Linked DNA regions of Homo sapiens. Each later gene encodes a partner of the first gene's protein in a complex. Each region holds a gene or a part of one and is shown on either strand. Other genes may lie near its edges.

Region 1 (9,818 bases):
GAGTGTGAGTTTTCTAAACAATGTCATATGCTCAGACTTACTAAAGCACCTGGTATGTGGAGCAAGCAGGAAACATGAATAAAGAGGGGAATGACTTTCTACCACTGGCAGAGTACTGTTCAATACAAGTCAAAAGGGGAGATGTGTAACATGTATAATAGAAAATTTTCTCTTATTACCAAACAACTTAGCAGGCTGGCAGTGAAAGTGGCATTTTCTTTTGTTTGGTAGTAACATACCACATTGCACCAAGCATATCGCTGGTGGGTGTGATTACTATATCAGATAAAGAAATCTCATTGAAGAATCTAACACAAATGTTTTGTTGGAGAAGACAGAATCATGTGGATTACCTCACAGTGATGATTTTATGTATTTGTTTAGTACCATTATGGTTTAGAGTTCTTTCACTTGAAGTTCACAGAGAAAAGAATTATAATGTCCATTTACAGATGAGGAAACTAAGGTTTAGAGAGGTAGGTGATGGGCCCAAAGTTGAACCAGGAGTAAGTTGAGCTGAATGGAGACACTGGGCTGTTTGGTGTCTGGGCAGTGCTGTGTCTCTTCAGCTCTGAAGCCCCTTTCACTACTGCTCTGTTTTATTCTAATTTAATGGAAAACAACAGTAAGACCTTCTTCATGGATTGCATTGTAAAAGGCAAAATGAGCTGGCTGCAGTGGCACACACCTGTAGTCTCAGCTATTCAGAGGGCTGAGGCAGGAGGATTGCTGGAGCCCAGAAGTTCAGGTCCAGCCTAGGCAACATAGTGAAACCTCATCTCTAAAAAGTAAACAACAACAAAAGGCAACATGAGGTCCTAACAGAGTATGGTAGAAAGGTCCTTGGACTAGGAGTCTGGAAGTGCCAGTTCTATTTTCAGTGGTGCACGAGTGGTTTTGTGATCTTATGTAATACTTGGCTTCTGGGCCTTTATTATTATTATTATATTTGATTTAAAAAACTTTTATTTTTAATTAGCAAATAATTGTATATATTTATAGGGTACAAGGTGATATTTTGATATATGTTTACAGTCTGGAATGATTACATCAGGCTAATTAACAAATCTATCACCTTTAATACTTTTTCTGTAGTGAAAATATTTAAAATCGTTTTATCAATTTTTAAATGTACAGTTCATTATTATTTATTATATTCAGCATTCAGTGCAATAGATCACTAAAGCTTATCTTCCTGTTTAACTGAAACTTTTTTTTTTTTTTGAGACGGAGTTTCACTCTTGTTGCCCAGGCTGGAGTGCAATGGCACGATCTCGGCTCACCGCAACCTCTGCCTCCCGGGTTCAAGCGATTCTCCTGCCTCAGCCTCCCAAGTAGCTGGGATTACAGGCATGCACCACCACGCCTGGCTAATTTTGTATTTTTAGCAGAGATGGGGTTTCTCCATGTTGATCAGGCTGGTCTTGAACTCCTGACCTCAGGTGATCTGCCCGCCTCAGCCTCCCAAAGTGCTGGGATTACAGGTGTGAGCCACCGCACCCGGCCTTACTGAAACTTATACTCTTTAGTCAACATTTCCCTCCGTCTCCCTTCCTCCCCAGCCTCTGGTGACGATCATTCTACTCTCTACTTCTATGAGTTCAGCTTTTTTAGATTCCACATACAAGTGAGATTACGAGGTATTTGTCTTTCTGTGCCTGGCTTATTTCACTTTGCTTAATGTCTTCCAGGTTTATCCAGGTTGTCTCAAATGACAGAATTTCCCCACTTTTTAGGGCTGAGTAGAATTCTATTGTGTATGTATACATTTTTTTTATCCATTCATCTAGTGACGGACACATAGGTTGCTTCCATATCTTAGCTATTGTGAATAATGCTACAATGAACAGGGCAGATATCTTCTCAGCATACTGAATTCAATTCTGTTGGTTACATACCCAAAAGTGGGATTGCTGGATCATATGATAATTCTATTTTTAATTTTTTGAGGAACCTCCATCTGTTTTCCATCATGGCTGTATTAATTTGTGTTTCCATCAACAGTGCACAGGGTTCTCTTTTCTCTACACCCTCAACAACACTTTATCTTCTGTCTTTTTCATGATAGCCATTCTGATAGGTGTGACATGATAACTCATTGTGATTTTTCTTTGCATTTCCCTGATGATTAGTGATGGTAAGCATTTTTTTCATATATCTTCTGGCCATTTGTACATCTTCTTTTGAGAAGTGTCTATTTAGGTCCTTTGCCCAGGCTCTGGGCCTTACTCAACTCTTCTGTAAAATAGAATTGGGAGTACAGTAGACATTCAGAAGTTACATATGTAATATTTTATGTTTGTACTATTTGTGAGTAACTGTAAAAAAGGCTTTGTAATCTTACGTAGATGTGAATTAAAACCAGGTGCTAAGACGCTGGCATTGGGAGTTATATCTTGACTAGTATGTGAGCCTAACCCAGTGTCCCCATCTTAAGATAGCTTTGTTGCTATTTCCGTATACATAGGAACTTTTGTGAAATGGCAAAACTGCGTATAAAAAAATTCCCACTGACTTTCATGGTATATTTATAGAATCATTAAGGATCTGAAAAATGACCACATAGAGCTTTACCCCATGTGGTGGGAGAAGTTGTATGCTGGATGCTTTTGAGTCAGAGAATTCTTGAAAGCTTTTAGGATATTTGCTGTCTATGCCTTGCAAAGTCTTTTTTTGTATTTTTTGTAGAGTCAGGGTTTTACCATGTTGCCTCAGGCTGGTCTCAAACTCCTGGGCTCAAGAGATCTGCCTGCCTTGGCCTCCCAAAGTGCTGGGATTATAGGCATGAGCCACCACGCCTGGCTTCTATGTTGTATCCAGCTCTAAAATCTTATGTTTCTTTTCTCTCAGCCCAATAGGGGCACAAAACGTCCCCGGGATGATGAAGAGGAGGAGCAGAAGATGCGTCGGAAACAAACTGGTACTCGAGAACGCGGCCGCTATCGGGAAGAAGAAATGACTGTGGTGGAGGAAGCGGATGATGACAAAAAAAGGCTGCTGCAGATTATTGACAGAGATGGGGAAGAGGAAGAGGAAGAGGTAACGTGGCAGCGCTGGGTGGGAGCTGAGATGGCTGGCCCTGTAAAACGTAATTTTGGGCCAAATACTAAGCTTGTCTGAGCTTCCCATCTTCATCTGTAAAATGGGGTTAAGAATTCATATTTCATCGCGTTAATGTGAAGGTTAAGTGGGCTAGTGCAGTTGGGAAAGCATCTTATGAGATGTAAAGAATGTGACAGAGTTTTAAAATTGTTCCATATTATGTACTGTAGGGGAGGGTCAGGGCAGGCTTCCTGGATCTTACTGAGGACACATAGAAGGCACTTGCATTATTATCTTTGAAAGAGGGGTCAAATTTCACCAAGTGGAAGGAAGGGCTTTTTGGGCAGAGAAAATGGTATTAGCAAAGCAACAAAAGTGGAGAAGTTTAATGGGTTCCACAGTATTAGGTATTTAGGTGTGACTGCAAAAGTACAGCTTAGGGAAGGAGATTCCTCGGGCCTTTCCCTTTGCTGTTCCTCAAGATGCGTTGGGGCCTTTCCACTCATTCCTGCCTCTGGACCTTTGGACTTCTGTGTCCTCTGTTGGAATGCTCGTCTCCCTTAATGCTTTGTATGACTGGTTTCTTCACATTCAGGTCTCAGTTCAGATGTTTCCTCCTCCAAGAAGTCTTTCCTATGTAGCCCTGCAAGCCATTCTCTCATTTCCTCATTACTGTATTTTGTATATTGTCTGCATAGCACGTATCATGATTTGAAATTCTAGTTGTTTATTTTGCTCATTGCTGTCCTCCTCTCAGCCTCCCATGAAAACAGAGACTGGCTCTGTTCTGTTCACAGCTCTATCTTTGGCACCCAGAGCAATACCTAGCTCTTGGTAGGCCCTTAATAAATATTTATTGAATGAATAAATGAATGAAGCTGGGAAGAGTAGAGGTAAAATATCAGTGATTAAAAACAAAATGACCTTACCTCTGTGTCTTTTTAAATCTTTAAGTGTTAACTTGTGTGTTATTTCACTCTGGCATTTTGTTCAATATGAATTATGGAAATAAGAGTCTTAAGAGCCAGCTGTTTTTTGGTTCTCTCAAAGACACGATGCTAAGTTTGGATTACAAAATGAGGTTGGCTGTGAATCTGAGAAGAAGAAAAAATGGATTCATATTCCAAAAAGGTCTTTACTGTGTTGTGACAATAGCTCTGTCTTTATTAGGATTTGTACTAGTGCTAATTTGGGGGTCTCCCGCTAAAAGATGATGGCACTTTAGAAATACGTGGTGGGAGACAGTCCTGAATTTTTTAATTTCCTCTCTGAGGGCAGCAGCCTTGCCAGGGCTTAGACAAACAGTGTGTGTAGCACATCCTCCCTCCCTTCCCTCCTCACCAGCTTCTGCTCAATCTGTTAGCCCTGCAGCAGCAGTTAATTGGCAGGTATAATTCCCATGTAGGGCAAGGCTGGTACTGGAGGATTAGGATAGTAGCTGTCATGGGTAAGTGGTTTCTAGCCTGGGAGACAGAAATGTAATGTGGGACCAACCCGTCTGTTAAGGGACAGGGAAAAAGAGATCGCTTTGTAAAAATGACACATGGAAGGCTACAAGTCCAGGAGTTATTTTCTCACTGCCACTGAAGTCCCATTTGATGAAAAACAAGTGATGTTTGCCCCTGTAAAGTCACGTGAACTTGTAAAATATTATTGTCCTTTTTGTGCTACATCATCAGCATTCATCTTTCTGAAATCTCCCTCTGGTTTCTGACGTTGAGCTATTGGAGATACTGCTGTGGCTGATGACTAAGACTGATAATTCAGTTTTCCCCCAGTGTTGGAGAGAAATTAAAGGAGGGAAGGCCAAACCCCGGAGAGGCTAGGACTTCGGAAATCCCATGAGAGCTGTGTTAACACTAATGTGGTTTTTCTCCAGAGTGGGGCAAGATGTTAGCTAAGAAAAGAAAAAGTAGCAGATATTGAGCTTACTTGAAAGTGATTTAACCCTTTCCTAGAAATGTTTTGATTATTTTAGTTAAATTCTAGTGGTATGTTGGGTACATTGTGCCTGTTGCTGATAATAACCATAACAGCTTGCATTCATGTAGTTTACAAAGTAGTTTTATGTACATCCTTTCTTTAGGTCATCTCTATGACCTTGAGAGATAACAGGTAACAATTTCATTCATCCCCTTCCTTCCCCTCCCCTCCCCTCCTCCCTTCCTCCATTCCTCAGATCTTCACTGAGTACCTGCTGTGTGCCAGACACTGGAGAGTCTACTTATGCCAGAGAACAAGTAGACATGGGCTAGCAATGGGAGTCTTTGCACTGGTTTGGGGTTGGAGAGATTATCTGGGCAGATCCTGCCAGATCCTTACGTAGATCATGTGAGGGATTTGGGATTTTATTCTAAGTGTGTAGTGGATGAGTTCAGGAAAGACTTAGGAGATAGAATTAGCTGGACTTGATGAAGCTTTGAGAAATATATTCAGCAAAGTAACATTGTCCCATGGCTAGTAAGTAGTGAAGCTAGGCTCTGAGTCTTGACTGAGCCAGGACTCTGACTTGTTTTTACTGTGTCAGGGAACCTGTCTTTAAGCTGTAGACCCTGGGGAGGAGGTAGGGGTTCAATAGAGAACCTTGGGATCTAGGAGTCATTGGTATAATCTAATAAATGTGTCATGCTGAAAATGAATTTATGGGTAGCTCCCACTTAAAACCCCATATGTGGAAATAGAAATTTAATAATAGAATAATAGCTAACATTTTTGAGTACTTATAAAATTATGGGATGATTCAGTGCTTTCCAAAAGGATCTATTTCAGGTTCTCTTAATAGCAGTTTCTTTATTGCTTTTAGGTGTGAGTTATGGTCAATGACTACAAAGCTGTGAAGCTTTGAGTTGGGATAGTATGAAGAGAAGCAGGGTGCATTGCAGCACATTAATTTAAACTGGAAGGAAACTGAAGATAAAACGTGTGAAATTTCAGTGTAGATTTTTTGGAGAAAAAATGATTTAGTTTTCAAATATTCATTTTATTTGCTTTCATAGGTATTATTCCAATGTATGAAGCCAGAAAATTCTGTACAGTCTACTAGCTTTTTTTTGCATTCTCTAGGCAAGGTTACTAAATTCTTGATGCTACTTCAGGGTTCAAAGTACCTGTCTGAATTCCTTCTCAGCATCTAGTAAGTACCAGGCAAAGTAATATATAAGAAATGCTAAGCAGTGACTATAGCTAATTAACAACCGTTCTTAGTTTACGCACTGTGGAAAAACAGGCAGTAGGTTGGATTTGGCTCATGGGCTGCAGTTTGCCAACTTCTGCTGTAGGAAAAGATTAAGGGTCACTGTCACTGACTCAGAGTTTGACCTTAAACAATTCTTTTAAACCTGTCAGTCTTATCTTACATGTATAGCAAAGGATGACAAGGTAAATGTATAATAATATTATCTAATATTGTTGCTTACTCTCTGCCATACAGTGTGCTCAAGAAATATTTGTTGAATGAGTGAGTCTTTAACAACTTTTCTTTTTTTTTTGAGACAGAGTCTCCCTCTCTCACCCAGGCCGGAGTGCAGCGGCACAGTCTCGGCTCACTGCAACCTCTGCTTCCCAGGTTCAAGTGATTCTCATGCCTCAACCTCCCGAGTAGCTGGGACTACAGGCATGTGCCTGTATTTTTAGTAGAGATGGGGTTTTGCCATGTTGGCCAGGCTGGTCTTGAACTCCTGACCTCAAGTGATCTGCCCACCTTGGACTCCTGAAGTGCTGAAGTGCCCAGTCTTTAACACCTCAAACCGAATTTTCTGTGTTACAGATAGTGGGCATTGTGTGAGACACCCAATGTGATATACCCGAAAAGAAGCATGTGATTACAGGCCCTTACTCCTCATTGTAATTAGAGAGATAAAGTGTGTACTGTGGCCGGGCACAGTGGCTCACACCTGTAATCCCAGCACTTTGGGAGGCCAAGGTGGGCAGATCACGAGGTCAGGAGATCGAGACCATCCTGGCTAACACGAAGAAACCCTGTCTCTACTAAAAATACAAAAAAATTAGCCGGGCATGGGGGCATGTGCCTGTAGTCCCAGCTACTCGGTAAGCTGAGGCAGGAGAATCGCTTGAACCTGAGAGGCAGAGATTGCAGTGAGCTGAGATCATACCACTGTACTCCAGCCTGGGCGACAGAGCAAGACTCCATCTCAAAAAACAAAACAAAACAAAAAAAGTGTACTGTACATTGAACCCAGAAAGGTCAATGGCAGAGTGAGGTGGGGTATAAGAGCCACAGGAAAGTAGTGACAATGAATGTGAAACCCCTGTGGACTGAAGTTTTTGCATTTGTCTCTTTGTACCAGGAGGAGCCATTGGATGAAAGCTCAGTGAAGAAAATGATCCTCACATTTGAAAAGAGATCATATAAAAACCAAGAATTGCGGATTAAGTTTCCAGACAATCCAGAGAAGTAAGGTTCTGTTCCACTGATACCATGTCTCCTCTGTGGCGTTTCGTTGGCTAATTTTGTTTTGATTTTGGTTTGTTTTGGCTTTTGTGATTTGGGCCAGGAATCCCAGGATGACCCCCATGTTTGGGAATTCACTAGAAGGACTCCCAGGACTCAAAGTCAGTGATACTCAGGGCTGTGGTTTATTACACAGGGCACACAACAGGATCAGCAAGAGAAAAAGACACATCAGGTGGCATCTGGAGAAATTCAGATACAGGCTTCCTATGTTTTCTCCTTCCCAGTGGGTGGGATTATACAAACATGCTTCTTTCTTCAGCAATGAAATGCATCAACATGTGTGCAGTGATGCTGTCCAGGGAAGCCCATTTCAGACTCTGAGTTCAGGGTTTTTATGGAGGACTGGTCATGTAGGCATTCTCTGCCTGTAATAACAATAACAACCAAAATTGTAGGCTCCTGGAAGGAAAGCAGCTGTTCAGTGCCCCGGGCTGACAAAGCAGCAACCTTATCACTTAGGGAACATTTCAAAAGCCAAATTCCTGGCTGCCAGCCTAGGGCCAGCCTTGTAAGCTAGCCCTTTTCAAGATCAGCCCCGCAGTTAACATATTAACTCTCCTGCATTATTCTTTTCAGTGCCCAAAGAAGACTGATCGTGCCTGCCGTTAGTGATAGCTTTACTGTGGAGATCATTTCAGAGGCTCTGAAGTTAGACAGATATTGGTGTGATACACACATCCCTTTGAATAAGTTACTTCCCCTTTCTTAGCCTTGGGTGTCTCATCTGTATAAGGAAATAATGCCTTCCTCACAGGGTTGTATGAAGATTAAAGGAGAATAATGTAAGTGTTTAGCTTAGTACCTGGCACATAGTAGGTGCCCATGAGATGATAGTTAACGTGAGTTTTACTACACTGGCACCTTGGTGCACTATGAAGTGCTATGTGAGGAATCTGGCATCTTTCAGTCAGTCTTGAATCCTAACCAAGGGGACTTTCACATTTATACGATTTTAATGTTCTAAACCTCTCTTTCTTTCCCTATCTTTGTCCCTCCCAGGACATACAATTTTAATGAATCTTAATATGCCCAAGGCCCCCAGGCAATTAACAATTGAGTAGTACAGGCTTTGCACTCAAGTTTTTAGGTTACTAGGGAGACTGACTATAAAGGCAAGGTAGAAGGAAACAGACACTTTAAAAGAGATATAATAGGAGAAGAAACAGTAAATACCAAGTTGGGGGCTATTGAGGGTGTCACAGAAAAGATAGTAGTTGAGCTGGGCCTTGAAGATTCATTTTTATTAGGCGGAAAAGAACACAGGAAGGCATGCCAGGCAATATGAGGAGCATGAACAAAGGCACAGAGGTGTCAGCGGGCACAGAGTCTTCATGGCAACCTAGAGAGGCCAGCGTGGTCAACTATGTTGTCCCTGTGCTGTGGATGAGAAGGCAGAGTGGGGAGAATGTGGTTACTGGGCCTAGGGCCACAGCCCTCTTTGATAGTAGGAGTAGCTATTAATAGATCAGGGCCCAGCTTATCCAGCATTAGAGTCCTATCAGGTTTTGTACTGATCTCCACCATACAGGAGCACTGTGTGTGTGTGTGTGTGTGTGTGTGTGTGTGTGTGTGTAATTACACAAGTAATGCATGAATAGATTGTCATTCTGAAAATACCAGTGGTACATGAGTAGAGTGAAAAATGAAAGTTTTCCTTCACTACTCTGATCCCTTTCCATTCCTCTGCCTAGAGGAACCTTGTGAACAGTTAATTATGCAAATGTATTTGTTTCTACTTAAATCATACTGTGCATATTCTGCACCTTGATTTTTTGGGTCATCTAACAGATCTGTCCAGGTGGTACATGCATATCTACCTTGTGTTTTTTTAATTGGTGCATAGTATTTCATGGTTTGGAAATACCATGACTTATTTAATTATTTTCTATTAATGGACATTTGATTATTTTAAAATCGGCTTTTATGAAAAATGCTATAGTGAACCTACTTGTACATGTGTCTTTGTGTGCATATATTTCCATAGGATAGATACCTAAATTTTGAATTCCCAGATTGAAGGGTATGTACATTTTAATGATAGCTACTGCCAATTTTCTCACTGTATTTTTAAATTCTCCCCCCAGCAGCAGCATCTCTTTTCTTGTGTTCTTGCCCACAATGCATGTGATCAGTCTTTAACATCTTTGCCATTTGTTTTGTTGTTATTTCTGTACTCAGTGGTTCCTGCATTAGACTCTGTTCCTTTTAGGAGATGGACGGTGTCTTGTTTGTCTCTAGTGCCTACCACAGTACTTGCCTTGCTGTAGGTGTTCAGTAAACATGAGAGAGCTCATGTAGTCCC
Region 2 (9,818 bases), on another chromosome or scaffold:
TCTGTTGCCTAGGCTGAAATGCAGTGGTGTGATCACAGCTCACTAGCCTGGAACTCCTGAGCTCAAGCAATCCTCCAACCTCAGCCTCCTGAAGAGCTTAGACTACAGGTGCATGCCATCATGCCTGGCTCATTTAAAAGCATTTTTTTGTAGAGACAGGGTCTCGTTATGTTGCCCAGGCTGGCTTGAACTCCTGGCTTCAAGCAATCCTCCTACCTTGGCCTACCAAGGCACTAGGATTACAATGTGAGTCACCACACCTGGCTCTCTGTATTATTTCTTACAATTGCATGTGAATCTATAATTATCTAAAAATAAAAGTTTAATAAAAAAGCAAATTAGAAACAGATGAGAGAACTTGCAAACCAGAAGAAAGAGGAAAGAGTGATGAAGATAGTATTTAATCAACAAAAAGGAAAGAGGCAATAGTTTATTAAATTGAGGAAAAAGCGTGAAAGGGTACCAACGAGACTGGTAAGACGTACATGGAGACGGTGGAACAAGAATGACTTGAGTAATGAAGGGAGAAAGGGAATGGCCAAGCAAAAAGGAAGAGAGAAATGACACAAATATTCAAGATTATATTGTATAAAGGTATACATGTGTGTATGTAAAAGAACATTTTTAAAAATGCATAAACCTGAGGTACAAAAAAATTACCAAGTATGAAATCTCCCTCCCTACAAGATTTTATAAAATAATTTTTTTCCTTTTTTTTTTTTTAAAGACTAGGTCTTGCTCTGTTGCCCAGGCTGGAGTGCAGTGGTGTGATTATGACTCACTGCAGCTTCAACCTTCCAGGTTAAGCAATCCTCCTGCCTCAGCCTCCAGAGTAGCTGGGACTACAGACATGTGCCACCGTGCCTATTTTTTTTTTTTTTCCGTTTAAAAGGAGAATAAAGGTAGAGTTCTATTCAAGGCCAAAAATACTAGACTAAAAACAGGGTATTCTAAGACCAGAATCCTTTAGCAATGGTTCAATTTAGCAAAGGATCCTTCGCCAATGGTTCAATTCTCGTTTATAGTTCTCTTTAACACCTTATAAAGAGGCAGAGACGGGGAAGGGTGAATTCAGAAAATAGCATTTCTTTGTTACCTGTGGCATCCCATTTGAATGCTATTTGAATCATATTATTGAATCGACCTTAGAAAGGGCTAAACAATTTAAAAGATGATGGAATTATAGATACTCACTTTGACTCCATTTCTCTCAATTTAGATCCAGCTGTGAGTTGCATGTTCTTTCTCTGCCAGTTTAAATCTTGAATATGTTTTCTGTAAAAAATTATTTATACAACCCAATTACATTTTAATGTAAGACCTAAATCAACAGAAAACTCTATAACACAAGAGAATATCTTAATCCCATGAGAACAATATTATGTACAGTTATAGGCTAACTGTAGAAATTACCTTTCTTCTAATTATTTTTTGATTACAAGTTTCATAAAACATGCTCATTGTGAGAAATCACACACACACACACACACAAGCACACACAGATTACAAGTCTCAAGTCCCCCCTCTCATGCATGTCTCCTTTTTCCTGATAACTCCTGTTGAGTTTTTGCTGGGTGTCCTTCCAGGCTTTCCTATATGTGTGTGTAGAAATTGGTTTTAAAAATCAGATTATATGTGTTATTCTGCAACTTTTCCCACTCTAAAAGTGCCTTTCTATGTTTGCAGACTTGCAAGCTGCAAGTGGCAGAGATGTTTTCAGACCTCAGGCCTATTTCTCCTCTACTTAGGTAGGGCAAACCCAGTGTCAGATGTTGAACAAAGAGAGTGGATCAATTGTTTACTTTCATCTGGCTGCAGTCTCTTTGCTTTCTTTTTCCTCCTATTTTCTATTTATTAAAGGTTCACTTAAACTTCATTCTGTAATAGGAAAAAACAATTTACCTTAACTTCTGAAGTTCCTTCTGTGCGTGTTCAATCATATGAACTAGATTTCTGAAGGAAAAGAGGAAAATCAGATTAAAATACATTAAAATAGTACCAATTAAAAGTGAACTTTTTCAAGTTTTTCTGCCAAAAATCATATTTATGGAGCTCTGTGCCAAGAACTATGTTGGACACTCCATAATCGAGGACTGTCACTCATGCTGGAATGCAGTGGTGTGATCATGGCTCACTGCAGCCTTCACCTCCCATGATCAAGTAATCTTCCTGCCTCAGCCTCCCAAGGAGCTGCAATCCTCCCACCTTGGCCTCCCAAACTGCTGGGATTACCATGCCCTGCCTGATCTTGGAGTACTTAGGTTACTTTTTTTTTTTTGAGACAGTCTCGTTCTGTTGCCCAGGCTGGAGCGAAGTGGTGAGATCTCAGCTCACTGCAGCCTCTGCTTCCTGGTTCAAGAGATTCTCCTGCCTCAGCCTCCCAAGTAGCTGGGATTACAGGCATGTACTGCCATGCCTTGCTAATTTTTGTATTTTTTTTTTTAGTAGAGATGGGGTTTCACTATGTCGGCCAGGCTGGTCTCGAACTCCTGACCTCAAGTGATCCATCTGCCTCGGCCTCCCAAAGTGCTGAGATAACAGGCGTGAGCCACTGTACCCAGCTTTTTTTTGCGGAGGGGAGGGACAGAGTCTTGCTCTCCTGTTGCTCAAGCTGGAGTGTAGTGGTGCAATCATGGCAGCCTCAACCTCCTGGGCTCAACTGATCCTCCCACTTCAGGCCTTCAAAGTAGCTTGGATTACAGGCATAAGCCACCATGCCCGGCTAATTTTCATTACTTTTTTGTAGAGACAGGGTTTCACCACGTTGTCCAGGCTGGTCTTGAACTCCTGGGCTCAAGCAATCTCCCCACCTCAGCCTCCAAAGTGTTGGAATTACATGTGTGAGCCACACGGCCTTTTGTCACTTCTTAAACTGTCATGACTTCTTGTCATAGAAAAGATGGAATATATCTGAGTACCCACTTATTTTATTTCTCAACCCCCTTTTATCTCTATATTTCTGCATATACATTCACCTTGTCATTCTCTCCTCCTGTCTACTGCTAACTAGAGAGAGGTGAGAAAAAGAAAACTGTTGTAGAATGAGATATCAGTCCATATTTGCATGTAACATATGCATAGCAAAATAAAAAATAGATACCAGTCCAGGTCAGCTGTAACTAGCACAGGGGAAAAGTTCAATAATACAGAGTACCATATAATTATTTTAGAGAAGTAATGAAACAGATTTTAATCTCTTTTTTAAGTTTAAATAACAACTTTATTAAGATATAATTCCACATCATATCAATTTCCTCTTAAGGCAGTGGATCAATCACCTACAGGGTCCATTTTTACCACATCTGGCCCTAATGTGTTCTTGCTCTAAATCTAATATTGTTTCCTGGCTTTTGTGACTCAAATTTTCTGTTGCTCACCTGAGTTATTCTCCTACCTCTACTGACTGGTTTCCTTGCATTAGCTGCAATTCTCTCAAGATTCAGTCTTTAAACAGCTGTGCCTCTCTAGGCTTTCCCTCAGGTCATCCCCCTTTCCTTGACTTCGACAATCACTCCATGCTGAGCACTATTGATTTTAGTGCTCTATTCCAGACTTCTGACCACTAACAGGGAGCTTTCCTTTGAATTGGCTCTCCCTGAAAGTTTAGTTTGTCTTCTCCCTTCTCCCACCCTTCCTCTTAAATATACTTTGATAAAATATAGTACATCTCCTCTGGAGAAGTGTCCACTGAATTTGGAGGAGACAAAATATGCTTAGGGGAATGTGAAGCACTATAGAGCACTTTGTGATTAAATGGAAAACAAGTGATGTGCACAATAATTCTGTGTATAGTTACTCAGAAGAGGGAGACAATACTAGAAGCAGAATTTCAATCAGGGAAGAAGACAAGTAAGCAAACTAGAGCTGAGCCCTAAACAAGCTGAATTTGGGTATAACAGGTAAAGACAAGGGCAAGTAAAGGCCCAGAGGCAGGATTTGCAATAATCACCAGAGAAAGGACTAGTTTGGGTTGAGTTAAAAGTCTACAGTTGAGGTAGTAAGGAAAAGCCCTTGAATACCACGTTAAAAAGCCTGGCCCAGCCGGGTGCTCACACCTGTAATCCCAGCACTTTGAGAGGTTGATGCTGGAGGATCACTTGAGGCCAGGAGCTCAAGACCAGCCTGGCCAACATGGTGAAACCCCGTCTCCACAAAAAATACAAAAATTAGCCAGGCGTGGTGGTGTCTATAATCCCACCTACTCTGGAGGCTGAGGCAGAAGAGTTGCTTGAACCCGGGAGGGTTGCAGTGAGCTGAGATTGTGGCACTGCAATCTAGCTTGGGCGACAGAGCAAGATTCTGTCCCGCCCCCCGCCCCCACCTCCAAAAAAAAAAAAAAAAAAAAAAAAAAAAACTTGGCCTCTACCTTGCAGGTAATAGGGAATTATTAAAGGTTTTCAGGTAAGTTGACAGCAGTGTTCTTTTCAATGTCATATTTTTTCCTCTGCATCTATGCTCTCCATTCCTGGAATGTTTTCCTTGTTTCCTTCTAAACATCCCAATTTCACCTTTCTTCAACAACCTTCAACTTAATGCCCCATCTTTTTTTTTCTTTTTTTTGAAACAGACTACAAGTGTGTACCACCATACCTGGCTATTTTTTTTATTGTTTTCTATAGAGACAGGGTTTCACTTACGTTGCCCAGGCTGGTCTCAAACTCTTGGCCTCAAGTGATCCTCCTGTCTCAGCCTCCCAAAGCACTAGGATTATAAGCGTGAACCACGCCTGGCAATGCCCCATCTCTTAACGCTTAGTTTACAGACCACAGCACACAATGTAGCACTTGCCCCCATATTGCCAAAAATGGACTATTGGTTACTTGGCATAAAACTTATTATCTCTTCCATTAGATAAAGCTTCTTGAGAAGAATCACATTTTTCCATTTTGTGAAACAGATTTATTGATGTCGCTTACATTTCTTAATCACCCTAATCCCATTCTTTCTTCTTTTTCCCCCCTTGCAATATATAGATATATAAAAGAAAGTTAGTTGTTGGCTTTGTAGAGTTTCCCAAATTCTGGATTTTGTCCACTGGATCATTTTTATGTGGCTACAAATATTAAATGCATAATTCTGAAGATTTGAGAAACAGTATTATCATTTCATGGTTTTGCTTTATTTTATATAGCTATGTTTCAGGAAACATACTCTAACGAAAGTTGTACATACTGTTATGAAGTTCAGTGGCCTTTTTCTCTTAAATTGTGAATAGACACTCAGGAAATTTTAGGGCACAAAGGGGCCATGCAGATAATCTAACCACGGAATTTTGCAAGCAAGGAATCTGAATTCTAGATAGACAATAAATACTAAAGCTAGAGCTAGTTACATGGAACAGAAACAGGATGTCAGTGGCTTGTTTTGACAACAAATACTTGCTCAAATTTATTTGTAATCCCAAAATTACTACTTGTAGTGTTTTGCAGTCATTCATGGACATGTGCACAGTGGTGAAAAATCTGAGCAGCTGAGCATGCACATTTTCAGCTGAGGATGAACAAGGAGGTGCTTTGCCTTCTTGTTTTAGCTCTCATACAGAAATAACCAGAGGATGAAGTTCAAGTTCCAAGTCTGGGATCTGTTAGTGGGGCAGTTTCAAGAAAGTTACTTTACATTTCTCAACTTTGTTTTCTCTTTTATAAAATAAAGAAGTCTACCAGGATGAGTTTATTTTAGGATTTAAGATTATAATCTATTTGAGAGATATGTATATGTGTGCACATGAATATGTATATATTTCCCCTAGGAGAAATGGTACAGTATTTGCTAATTCAGTGTTCATAGGACTTAAAGAACATAACCCATGACTAATGAGAATCAACTGTTTAAGCAACGCTTGATAACATTCTATCAAGTGGTGCTCTGCAAATGGGACCTCAGAACTAGTTTTGTTACAATATTATACAATAAATGTCGTAGTTTGGTTTAGGTCCTGTTAGTACTCTTGAACTTTGAGGTGGGTTTCAAAATAGTGGCCTTTCATATGGGTTGCAGTTCTAGAACATAATCCCAAGACAAAGTCTAGCTATATTATTTTTATCACACTTCCCCTACCCATACTTTGTGGGGTTTTTTTGTTTGTTTTTTGAGATGGAGTCTCGCTCTGTCACTGTGGCTGGAGTGCAGTGGCACAATCTCAGCTCATTGCAACCTCTGCCTCCCAGGTTCAAGCAATTCTCCTACCCCAGTCTCCTGAGTAGCTGTGACTACAGAAGCGCCACCATGGCCGGCTAATCTTTTTTTTTTTTTTTAGTAGAGATGCGGTTTTACCATGTTGGCCAGGCTGGTTTCAAACTCCTGACCTCAGGTGATCCACCCGCCTCGGCCTCCTGAAGTGCTGGGATTACAGGTGTAAACCACCGCGCCCGGCTTTTCTTTTTCTTTTCTTTTTTTTTTTTTTTTTTTGAGATAGAGTCTCATTCTGTCGCCTAGGCTGGAGTGCAGTGGCAAAATCTTGGCTCACTACAACCTCTGCCTCCCAGGCTGAAGCAATTGTCATGCCTCAGCCTCCAGAGTAGCTGGGATTACAGGCACACGTTACCATGCCCAGCTAATTTTTTGTATTTTTTTTTTTTGTAGAAATGGGGTTTCACCATGTTGGCCAGGCTGGTCTCGAACTCCTGACCTCAAGCAATCCACCCACCTCTGCCTCCCAAAGGGCTGGGATTACTGGCATGAGCCACTGCACCCAGCACCTCCCATACTTTTAAAATGTACTAAAACTTTGGGTGAGATGGAAAGAAAAGAGAAAAAACAAAAAAAACAGAAGATGAAGAAAAAGGTTCTTACTCATTGTATACTTTCCAGGCATTACATCCATGCTGTGACATTAGTTCCAGATTCTCAATTCTAACTGCTTGATGCTCTAACTGGGCCATAGAATTGTTTACACATTCTTGCCATGCAGTAATGTCATTTTTTTGACCAGAGGAGGGGGCTGGAAGCTCATATCTGAAATTAAACAACAAAATAAAATAAAACCATCTATACTGCCAAGCCTTTACATCTCTTCTCAGTAGAATGTCCCATGAGTCTCCATATAGTATAAAAACTACAGAAGACTAAGGATGTAAACCTTGCAATAATAAGAAACCGATATATGCTAACAATCAATTTACAAATATGATTTAGCACCATTATGTTCACTTCAATGTGAACTGGTTAAATAAGCAACATTACATTCACATAAAAGATTGTTACATTAGCTATTAAATGTTACTGAAGAATATTTAATAATATTAAGATGTCAGTAATATATTAAGGGGAAAAAGCAGTAGACAAAAAAGTTTGCTACCATTTTTGTAAAATACTCACACCCACCCATCCACTAACATACCCATGCGCCGGTAGAGAAAAAAATGAGAAGCGATATGACTCCTTCTATTCTCTCTTCATACTACCCAGTCAGTCCTTCAACACTGCCTCTCTCTCTCTCTCTCTCTCTCTCTATATATATATATATATAGTTTTTTTTTCAAGACTGGGTCTCCCTCTGTCCCCAACGCTGGAGTGCAGTGGCACAATCTCGGCTTGCTGCAACCTCCATCTCCTGGGGGGTGTCAAGCGATCCACCTACCTCAGCTTTCCAAGTAGCTGGGTCCACGGGTGCGTGCCACCACACCCAGGTACGTTTATTATTATTATTATTATTATTATTAATTATTTTTGGTAGAGATGGGGTTTTGCCATGTTGCCCAGGCTGGTCTCAAACTCCTGGATTCAAGCAATCCACCAGCCTCGGCCTCCCAAAGTGCTGGAATTACAGGTGTGAGCCACCACACCCGGCCAACACTGCCAATATTAGCCAGCAAATACATTCTTCACAAATCTCAGCTCATTACTGAGTTACTACAAACTAAATTTTAATTTCCATTTTAATATTCTTACCGTTTCATACTGAGCAATTCAATTGGTTGTCGAGCAGCCAGTCTTTCAAATTCATTTCTCATTATGTCAGTCTGATGTGTAAATCAGAAAAAAGATTTCTAAGATCATGTTGACAACTAAAAATTAACAATCACCAAAGAACAGATTTAAGCTACACTACCCATTATAATGAATTGTTTACCTTTCCCTAATTCTTCTCTGAGTTAAATGCTCTCTAGAATCTGAAGCACACACACACACACTCACTCACTCACTTCACATTCAGGAAAAGTGGCATGTATTAAGGAGCCCACAGAGAAAAGGATTAATCCTAAACCAGTGGTTCTTAATTCCAGAAGCATATCAGAATCAGTTCGACAGTGCTATGGTTTGAATGTTTGTCCCCTCTGAAATTCATACAGAAACTTAATCCCCAATGTAATAGTATTAAGAGGTGGGGTCTTTAAGAGGTGATTGGGTTATGAAGGCTCAATCCATTCATGGGTTAATAAGTTATCACCAGAGTGGGTATGTTATAAAAGCCAGTTTGTCTTTCTCTTGTGTGCCCCTACCTTGCCATGTAATGCCCTGTGCTGCTTCAGGACTGTACACCAAGTCCACACCAGCAAGAAGGCCCTCACCAGATGCAGCCTGTGAACCGTACACTTTCCAGCCTCCAGAAATCCAAGAAATAATTTATTTATTTATTTATTTTTTTTTTGTGAGACGAAGTCTCGCTCTTGTCCCCCAGGCTGGAGCGCAATGGCGCGATCTTGGCTCATCTCTGCCTCCCGGGTTCAAGCGATTCTCTTGCCTCAGCCTCCCGAGTAGCTGGGATGACAGGCATCTGCCACTATGCCTGGCTAATTTTTGTATTTTTAGTAGAGACAGGGTTTCACCATGTTGGCCAGGCTGGTCTCGAACTCCTGACCTGAGGTGATCGGCCTGCCTCAGCCTCCCAAAGTGTCTTTTCTTTATATTCACTATCTTCTCTAGCAATTTTACTGTTCGCAAGTAAATGTAGTATAGCTGTTCCTCTTTAGGGCCAACGTCCTAACCCATTTCCATTCTGCACATTTCCTACCCTGAGGATAAAGAACTGCTTAAAATATTTCTTTGTAGTAATACTTCGGTTATTCCATGTAATTTTAATTTTCTGAGGGTTTCAACTATCTTAACAATTAGACTAAATAAGTATCAAAGGCCTTACAGAAGCCTGCATGAATGTTTAAAAGTTTTTATTAGGCCGGGCGAGGTGGCTCATGCCTGTAATCCCAGCACTTCGGGAGGCCGAGGTGGGTGGATCACGAGGTCAAGAGATCAAGACCATCCTGGCCAACAAGTTGAAACCTCATCTCTACTAAAAATACAAAAATTAGCTGGGCGTGATGGCACGTGCCTGTAATCCCAGATACTCGGAGGCTGAGGCAGGAGAATTGCTTGAACCTGGGAGGTGGAGGTTGCAGTGAGCTGAGATCACACCACTGCACTCCAGCCTGGCAACAGAGTGAGACTTCATCTCAAAAACAAAAAAACAAAAAAACAAAAAAACAAAAAACAAAAAACAAAAAATTTCGTATTAAGCATTTCTTTCTGCAGAAAGTATTTTGCAGGGGCTACTGCTAAATTACACACAATCTTAAGAAAATGTAGTTACCTAGTTTCCTGCAAAAAAAAAAACCAGGGCATTCTAGCTAGAAAATTCTGCAGTGACAGACAAGGAGTAAACAGCCAATTAAACACGAGGCAGTATAAAAATGCAGTATAAGTAGTCTTGAGCCATGTAGCATAGGAGGAACCCTTAACTAACTCACATGCTCAGTAAGTGATAAATCTGGAATTTTAGCTCATCTCTCTCCAAAGACTAAGCCAGTGTTCATGGAGCGGCAAGGGCAATCCCTGCTCATGGAGTAGTCTCATCTTAGCTTTGAGAGGCCTTCCTCAACCAC

The links.
Region 2: CTNNBL1 (region 1) and BCAS2 share a complex: the UniProt entries of both Homo sapiens proteins name them as parts of the PRP19-CDC5L splicing complex.

What each region holds. Positions count from the first base shown.
Region 1 is NC_000020.11:37,730,029-37,739,846, forward strand, and holds part of CTNNBL1 (beta-catenin-like protein 1), read left to right. Parts: intron 1-2,850; coding exon 2,851-3,039; intron 3,040-7,349; coding exon 7,350-7,456; intron 7,457-9,818. UniProt on the Homo sapiens protein: Component of the PRP19-CDC5L complex that forms an integral part of the spliceosome and is required for activating pre-mRNA splicing.
Region 2 is NC_000001.11:114,568,798-114,578,615, forward strand, and holds part of BCAS2 (pre-mRNA-splicing factor SPF27), read right to left. Parts: intron 7,962-9,818; coding exon 7,891-7,961; intron 6,955-7,890; coding exon 6,793-6,954; intron 1,954-6,792; coding exon 1,903-1,953; intron 1,276-1,902; coding exon 1,195-1,275; intron 1-1,194. UniProt on the Homo sapiens protein: Required for pre-mRNA splicing as component of the activated spliceosome. Component of the PRP19-CDC5L complex that forms an integral part of the spliceosome and is required for activating pre-mRNA splicing.